Linked DNA regions of Homo sapiens: region 2 is linked to region 1. Evidence: fine-mapped expression QTL. A gene starts in region 1. The other region holds a variant in brackets. All regions are shown on one strand. Distances are between the middles of the regions.

Region 1 (4,399 bases):
AGATGCCTTTGTCCAAAGGGAAAATCTCCCCCAATGTCTGGAATAGGTCTCCTTATGGGACTTATTCTTTATGGGACTGAAAGGGGCAACATGTAGTAAATATTTTCATCTGTGAAATCCTCTACTCATGGGGAATAAATATTGACTATTTTAACTTTCTGGTCAAAGCATTCTTATTCATTGCTGTAGGCATTGTTAACAGTTTAAAATTAGAATGTTCAGCATTTTCCTTCTAAAATATATTATTTTCCCAAGACTTTGATTTTGGAATTGTACCATACATTTCCGGATGTATCATTAGTCATAGGATAATTTTTTAAAAAGTGACTCTCTTCAATTCTGGTATGTTGTCCTTACACACGCAATCCTTTCCTTTTTAAATTGTTGTCCATGTATATCTTAGAATTAGTCAAAAGAATTTTTAAAACTGTAAAACAATAAACATTTTGGGAGAAGCACTTTGATCCCAGATCTTATGTAATTGTCATTATTTTTCACTATAAGCCAACCATATCTTTGACTCCACTGTCATATTTTTATTCTCTTAATATAATCAAAAAAGGAAAACATTCTATAGGAAGTCATTTCCTTATTATAATGCAATCCCAGATTCTATTTAGCTCATTTGGTTTGTTTGTTTATTTGCTTTCCCCGGGGGCAAAAATATGTTATTTTCTTATTCTGGCTTAAAAAATTTTAAGTCATAATTTCTGATTTCACCAGTAAAACTAAACAATTTTGGCTCTAGCCAGCTGTTGGGAAAACTCAAAAGAAATTTAGGTGCTACAGAAAGAGAGGTTAGTAATTCCAATTGTTCAGCTCTTGCCTTTAGAGTATTCTCTGAGTTGTGTTGGAGTATGTTATTGAGTTGCTGTGAACTACTGCTGCCAACTTCTACCCTAGAGATGGCTATATTTCAGAGATGAGTGAAATTATATTTGTAAACAAGTTTATAATCATTAATAAAGCTTACCAATTTAAGCTCTTCAGAAATACACATCCACTATTATAATTTTCTATTGTTTAATTACAACCTTTAATAGAGACATGAAGACTTTTAAAATGTATAAGAACTCTAAACTTAATTAAATTTGATTTCATGATGTTTATTTGGTTTTTGTAAGTTTCAGGTGTCAAATTATTTCTCCTTAGAGATCCTGGTGAAATTCCACCATTGACTGTTCCAACGTACTGTTTAAAAATCCCTAAGAATATTTTTCTTTAAAGTTGACAACTGTGCACTCTGGGATCCAGATGCTATATTCGCAGTACGATGATTTTGTTCTGTTTTCCACACATGGCCTTTTCATACACTGTCTCCCAGGGATGAAAAATTCTGCCTTGAATGAGAAGTTTTAAACCTTGCTTGAAAATAATAAACACGATACTTTACATGTTTATGGCCATTTAAGTTAAAAAAACGTGCATTTACATGTATCATATTGTTTTACTCTCAAAATTAGTCTTGTAAAGGGAAAAAAGGCATTAAGTAATTCAGTAAATTGTCTGCTGCATGCTAGCCACTATGAAGGGACTGCATGATAGACAAGGCAGTCCCAAAACTTAGAATTTCCTTGGGAAGGTAAGACACGAACAGAATTAACAGCAATGGGGTGGTACATAAGCGTCTCTTCCAATTGAGAAATAGAGGGGCAAAAGGAGATTTATGTGCCGCATTGTGCTAGGAAAGGCACATGTATTATCCCCTGAAACTCGAAACCCGTGTTTGGGGCATGGTCTCCACATGATTTGCACAGTCCACCACAGTGTGAGTCCCCACGGGGGTCCTTTTGACGTCGAGCCCATAGAGTCGTGATGGAGTCTTAGACATGAGGTAGAACTGGCTTTTTTACTCGTGAAAACACTGAGGCTCATGGAGGTGAAATGACTCGGCCAAGGTCACACACACTGATAGCGGCAGAGGCGCGGCCGGAACCAGGTCTTCTGATGCCAGCCCAGTGCCTCCCTACATCTCTACTCCCTGTGGAAACTATTTGCTTCCCTATCGCCCTTCGTCTGGGTGGGGGATGTCATTTTCAGTCAATTTACGGACTTTTCAAAAAGAGAAGGGTGGATAGGAGATTGGAGAAAAGTTTCCTTTCGGTCAGTGAAGAGGCCTGATTCGTTCCAACACCATTTATGGACCTGCTCCTGCCAGGCACTGGGCATCCAGGACACAGCGAACACAGATCCCCTGCCCTCAAAGACGCCCTAGTTAGGGGCGTCTCCGGGTCTTTGATGACCTCCTCTCACGAGCGGTCCCCAGCCCTCCCCAGGGCTCACCTGCCGGCCTCTGCAGGTACCCACGTCCCTAGGACCCGCCACTGGGCCAGGCCCAAGCAGCATCAAGCCCCGGGTCCCCGCCATTGCGCCCGCGTCGCGCGCCTCCAGTCGCCACGGCAACCAGGGAGGTGCTGACCCCTGACCTCGAGGCCCCGCCCCTTCACGTTCCCGAGACCAACATGGAGAAGGCCAACCCGGAAGTGCCGCCGCAGCCGCCCGCCCGGTGTTAGGAGCCGCCGGCCGGGCCAGGCCGAACCAAGCGCCCGCAGCCCTGCAGCCCGCTGCCCGCCCCACGTCCCGCCGGCGCCGGGGCGGCCGCGTTCCCCGCCCTCCCCCACTCCACCCCTGGCTACCCGCTCCCGCCCGAGAGGAGGAGCTGAGGCGAGGGGGAGGAGGAGGAGGGAGAGGTTTGCGAGAGGGAGCGAGGCCGCGTTAGCCGCCGGCGGTTCGTATTACCGGGGTCGGGAGGAGGAGCCGGGCCGAGCCTGCGGACGAACGCCGGGCGGGCGGGAGGCGCGGAGGCAGCGGAGGCTGCTCGGCCGCAAGGAGGCAGGCGGGAGGCCAGGGGTGCAGAATTGGGGCGGGGGCTCCCTTCACCCCCGCAGCCCTCCGCCCGGGTCCGTGTGGCCAGGCCTCACGTGCCCCGCAGGCCTGGGGAAGGTGGAGACAGGGGCGGGGGTCCGCGCAGAGGCCTGCACGGCGCGGCCAGGTGATGGTGGGCCTCTGTGTTTCTCCAGACGAAAGGGGACCCCCGGAGCGGCCGTGCCCCTGGGCTGCCCCCGCGAGGCGTTTTGACATCAGCCATAGGGAAGTCGGGGAGCCCTGAGCCTGCCTGTTTCCGTTAAGTGTCCTTAGGATGCAGTGATTAAGGAATTAGGCTCTCCCTCCGGGAGGGGCACTGCCTGTGCTAGGGAACTCGGGGGCAGAGAAACAGGACAGGATGATGCTGTCCGAGCAAGCCCAAAAGTGGTTTCCAACCCACGTGCAGGTCACAGTGCTCCAAGCCAAAGATCTGAAGCCAAAAGGCAAAAGTGGTACCAATGACACATACACTATAATTCAGCTGGGCAAGGAAAAGTACTCCACCTCTGTAGCTGAGAAAACCCTTGAGCCAGTTTGGAAGGAGGAGGCCTCTTTCGAGCTACCTGGATTGCTAATTCAGGGAAGTCCAGAGAAATACATTCTTTTCCTTATAGTTATGCACAGGTCCCTGGTGGGTCTGGATAAATTTTTAGGGCAGGTGGCAATCAATCTCAATGACATCTTTGAGGACAAACAAAGAAGGAAAACAGAGTAAGTTATGTAATTTATTTTGAATTTGGGGGAGTTTATATCTTATTTATGGTTTTTCTGTTCTTGGAAATTATCCGTATACTTCGGGCGTTGGTTTTTGGATTGAAATATGATCCAGTTTTAAGCACCATATTTGCATGAATCTGAAGTAAAAGTAGCACTCGTGATGAAATATTTTTTAAATGGAATCATTAATGATCCCTTATTCTTTCTGTTAAACATCTGTCAAATAATTGAATATTTTGTGGTGGATTTTAAGTAAGTTAACATTGTTTCAGTATGAGGACTGGATCACAGTATTGACCAACTAGAACTTCATATAAATTGTTATGGATTTTAAACCTTACAATTATCAATGAAATGGAAGATGAGAAATTAAATCTGGCAATGTAATGTTGATGTGTCGCACTTTGTAGCTGTCAAAAGATAAATCACCAGATTTAGAACTCAGTATTTCGTTTCAGCGTTATAAACACAGCTTTTATTTTAGCTCAGCCATTTTTCAGGGTCAGTGTGCCTTGATGGGAGTCTATACCTGTTAGAAAAAAAAAAAGTTTTAAAAGTATGTACAGACATCCTCAACTTCGAATGCACTTACATTTTCCTTTGAATTTGCAATTACATCAGAGTTATTGTATTCAGAATTGATTTTCCAAAGCTATTGTGTTTAGACCATATTAAATGCTGTAGGATGGAGAGAATGATAAATTTTTGTGATGAAATGATTTGATAACATCTTCAGTGGTCTTTTCAGTATGACTTTTGAGCTTGAGTTAGATACATTTTAATTTAAAAAATCATAATATAAATTAACACTAGGATA
Region 2 (4,399 bases), 59 kb after region 1:
TTTCAGCTCACATTAGGACTGTGACTTTTTCTTTCTTTAAAAAAGTCATTTGAGAAGATTCACTCTACAGACTATGCTTGGGATTTCTGTTTATGTGACTTTCATTTTGGGACTTGACAAAACACCATACTACCAAGCATGTCTTTTATTTCCATTCAAGAAGTATATTCCAATGATTAGAAAACTGAGGTGAATTCATGAAGGAATATAGCAAGAAGAAAGGCAGTCCTCAACCCTTCCTCCTTGCCAGGAGTTGGAAGTCATAGAATTTAACAGGTAAGGTCTCAAAGTACCCACTGGGAAGAAAGATTTGGGCCTTGCCTTTTGGTGTGTATGAGTCACCAATAAAATGGAGAGAATCACCTACCTTTCAGGTCTGAAGATGAACACAAAGAGTTTTTGAAGTCTTCTGAGGTTCTCAAGAAAAAGTATGTTAATTCTGGAAGTACACCTTGGATTCTTAGAGCAATGAAATATCACTTTCCATTGGGCAGGAAAGAAGAAGAAAGCTGGATGATGCCAAGTGTTGGTGGGGATATAGGAATATAGGCGCCTTCCTACACTGCTGGTGAGATGGGAAGGCAGCGCTGTGCACAGTACGCACCTTATGGCCCAGCAATCCTGTATTTCGAGGTATACCCCAGACAGATGCTTAGACAGGTTCCTAAAGGACTGGTACAAGTTTTTCATAGTAGGACCTGGAAGCAACTGGGGAGAGTGGGCAGGTAAAACACAGTCCAGGCATACCCTGTACACATACACACACACACACACACACCCCTCCAGATAAAATGACTTGAAAAAAGTCCTAGCCACAAAAAAAAGGGAAAAAGTTGAATGAGATTTCTAGAATAGCACAGTTTATGTAAATTAACAATATTTGCATACGAAATGACAGTATGCATTTTACAAGGACACATACAAACAAAAGATCCCAGTCAACTGGAATGGTTGCATATGGCAGGGCAGGCACATGATGGGAGTAGAAATGATGATAGAAGGAAATAAATAAAATGTAATTAAAAAGTACAAAAAAGGGACGCCATGCAGAGAACGATGCTAATAGTGTACTATGAATGTGGTAGGATGGATTCAAATCTCTACATTTCAAGTGCTGTCCCTCCCCCAAATGTATAATACACACACACACACACACACACACACACACACACACAGAAGGTGTTGCAAGATAGTGACACATGGGCAAAATCAGGCCCTCAGATATGTTTTGTTTGGTCTATGCAGTACATAAAAGTGGCTTGAATTAGTTGCCAATACTTAAAATGCAGGTCTTCAGCTACTCTAAGAAGATCCAACAAGCTTGGGCTGAAGACAGCAATCCCCATTTGTGCTTGGCGGCTTGCCCCATCCCTAAAGAGCCTGAAGTCTGCTGGTCACCATAGTCCTTATCCTTTCTGCCCTGAAAAAGGAGGAGGATAGGCTCACACTTTCCTTTGCACGGTGAGCTGAACCAGATGATTCTCCTGTTCCATTTCCTGCCTGGCCCCTAATCGGATACTGGTTGATACAGTGGTCACCTGCCCTCGCTATCTCTCATCCTCTCAGAAATTTGGTTCTACCAGATCAAGTGGTTGAGGCAAGGATTGGGCCTTTTGCTGAAATGGGAGAGGCAAGACAGGAGCAGGGTGGGGCAAATTCAGAGCCCCCTTTCCACCACGACATGTTTCAGATGCCCATTACATATCCAGGTGGTGAAATTAAACAGACAGCACTTATGTGAGTGTGGAGTTCTAGGGAGAGGTCAAGGTTAGAGGATAAACAGTTGGGCAACACTGACATGAATGGTAAAGATGTGGGACCAGATGAGATCACTCAAAGTATGGAAATAGAGAAAAGAAGGAGGAATAATGAAAACAGGAGGGGTTGAGAGGGGAAATGCGAACAAGATATGAAAATTTGGGAGAATTCCCTGACAGCAGGCTTTTTTCTCGAGAGCAATAATCAATTAGAGAGATCTCAAAAATGTGTCACTGATTGCAAAAGCATGCTGCAGAATGACGTGTAATATGGTAGTATTTTTGACTATTGAAAAGAATATACAAAACAATACAAGGTATTTTTTCATGAATGTATAAAGTCTGGATGGATGCATAGCCTCTTGAGAAAGACAGGAGAGCAGGGCTGGGGAGGGTAGCAACAGGGCTGTAACCATCTATAGTGTTCTCTTTTATTTATATTGTTTTATTTTATTATTTAATTTTAAAATAA[T/C]TTTAAAGTAATTTTTAATTTTAAAATAATTTTATATTATTTAAAAACATTTCAAAAAATAACTATGACAATGAGCAATTTTAGTGAAAATGAAGATGAAATTAGGAATATTGGAAATCTGTACAGTACTTTGAATAGGGGAATTTGCACATAAAATATATGTAAACTCTTAATAGTATGTGTCATGGTTAATTTTATGTGTCAACTTGACTGAGTCAGTGGGTGTCTGCATATTTGGTCAAACATTATTCTGACTGTATCTGTGAGGGTGTTTCTGGGGCCAAGATAACATTTGAATCAGTATTCTGTGGAAAGCAGGTTGTCCTTCCTTATGTGAGTGGGCCTTAGCCAATTGATTACAGACCTGAACAGAACAAAAAGCTGAGTAAGAGGAACTTTGCCTGCCTGGTCCTTGAGCTGGAGCATTGATCATCTCCTGCCTTCAGACTGGAACTTACACTGTCTGCTCTCCTGGTTCTCAAGCCTTCAAACTCAATCTGGAACTACACTGATAGGTCTCCTGAGATCCAGCTTGCCAACCTCAGATCCTGAGACTTCTTAGCCTTTGTAATCATGTGAGCCTATAATAAATCTCTTTTTCTCTATATGTATATCTGATTAGTTCTGTTTCTCTGTAGAACCCTGCCTAAGACAGCATTTAATAGCAAAATTACCACCTTTGTTTTATTCTCAGCAAATTGAACTGGGCTATTCAACATACCTTTGATTGCTGATGCAAGTCTTTTTTTTTTTCTTTTTCTCAAAAGCATTTTTATCAAAGGAATGCATGCATATAATTTTAAATGTTTCAAATCACTGTAAGGCAAAAAATTAAAAATAATAGTCCCGTGCCCTCCTTACCCACTGCCCAACCCTGTTTTAGCTCTCCAGAAGCTTCATTCATTTCTTCTGATATTTATCTCCATTTCTCACAATTATAGTGCACACTGTTGGATCATCACTTTTAGACATTTGCCATTAATTCCCTATTGTGCAGGATGAAGTCAATTTTATCTTATACTTCCATTCTCCTCCCTCTCTCCCTTTCTCAAAATATAGGGATACCACAATCGTAGATTAAATTCACTGTTAATGTTTTAATTAGTATTATTCTACAAATGTAGCTCATCATCTACTGAGCCAAGTAGAATACCAGGATTACAGTTACCTTTTTGTACTATTATTCTACAAATGTAGCTTATCATCTACTGAGCCAAGTAGAATACTAGGATTACAATGACCTTTTTGTACTAATGTTTTGTTTTTCCCAGACTTAACCCTTCCTTCCTTCTTTCTATTTTCCTTTCTCTCTTTTTTCCGGATTTACTTGTTTTTCTTTCTTAATTTTCTTGTGAGGCAGACTAGTAGTTTCTGGAGCCCCATTCCTTGGGTTCAAAACCATCTCTGCCCCTCGCTAGCTGGGTAAGCTTGGGCAAGTTACTTCCCGTTTCAGAGCCCCCATTTTTTCATCTATACAGTGAGATTGATAATGGGATGGCCTTACAGGATTGTGATGAGAATTAAATGAGTTAACATAAGTGAAGCACATAGAACATAGTTGGGTCTTCTCTTTTTTAATCTGCTTTGATAATACCTGCCTTTAAGTGGAAGTTTAATGCATTAAAGTTTAATGTAATTATCAGTATGGTTAGAATTAGGCCTACCATTTTATTTGTTTTCTAATTGTCACCTCTCTTTTTTACTTCTGTTTCCCTGCTTCTGCCTTCTTTGGAATTATTGTAATAATTTGTCTTTTGAATTTTTAGATATCACTATACACAGTTTATTTACTTTTATTTTTTATTCTTAGTGATTGCTCTAGGGATTACAAAATCCATTTTTTACTTTGCACAGTCTACTTACAGTTAATATTGTACAATTTCATAAAAATTATGGAAATCTTGCAACTATTTTGATTCATTTACTACCTTACTGCCATCCTTTTTGCTGCAATTGTCATGTTTTTCATTTACATATGTTATAAACCTCACAATATTATAATTTGCAGTTTAAATAGTCATATATGTTTTAAGAAAATTAAGAGAAGAAATAATCGTAAAGACAGCCATTCAGAGAAGAGGAGATCACAACCCCAAGTTTCTGTTTCACAGATAAGGTAGTTGCTCACACATATGCCTGCAAAATAAATGAGACAGGATCCCTCTTCCCA

Alleles and levels. Alleles are on the strand shown, and positions count from the first base shown. SD is a standard deviation of normalised expression in the study named.
As copies of T replace C in region 2, the expression in monocytes of the gene that starts at base 2,446 in region 1 goes up (large effect, 1.7 SD a copy in Fairfax 2014).

What was found. PIP is the estimated chance that this variant, and not a neighbour inherited with it, causes the effect.
Region 2: its variant is the best candidate, but not a certain one, in a credible set for the expression of RAB11FIP2 in monocytes (Fairfax 2014, PIP 0.58).

Annotation. Positions count from the first base shown.
Region 1 is chr10:118,044,988-118,049,386 of GRCh38, reverse strand. RAB11FIP2 (RAB11 family interacting protein 2) reads left to right here and starts at 2,446. Exons shown (of 5, transcript NM_014904.3): 1 at 2,446-3,576. The coding sequence starts at 3,224. It overlaps CASC2 (cancer susceptibility 2), which reads right to left and starts at 2,566. Exons shown (of 4, transcript NR_026940.1): 1 at 2,284-2,566. RefSeq lists a silencer at 2,519-3,008.
Region 2 is chr10:117,985,538-117,989,936 of GRCh38, reverse strand. No RefSeq gene overlaps it. Among named protein-coding and RNA genes, the nearest start is that of CASC2, 59 kb to the left of the region's middle. The variant T/C (reference allele first, on the strand shown) is at 2,230.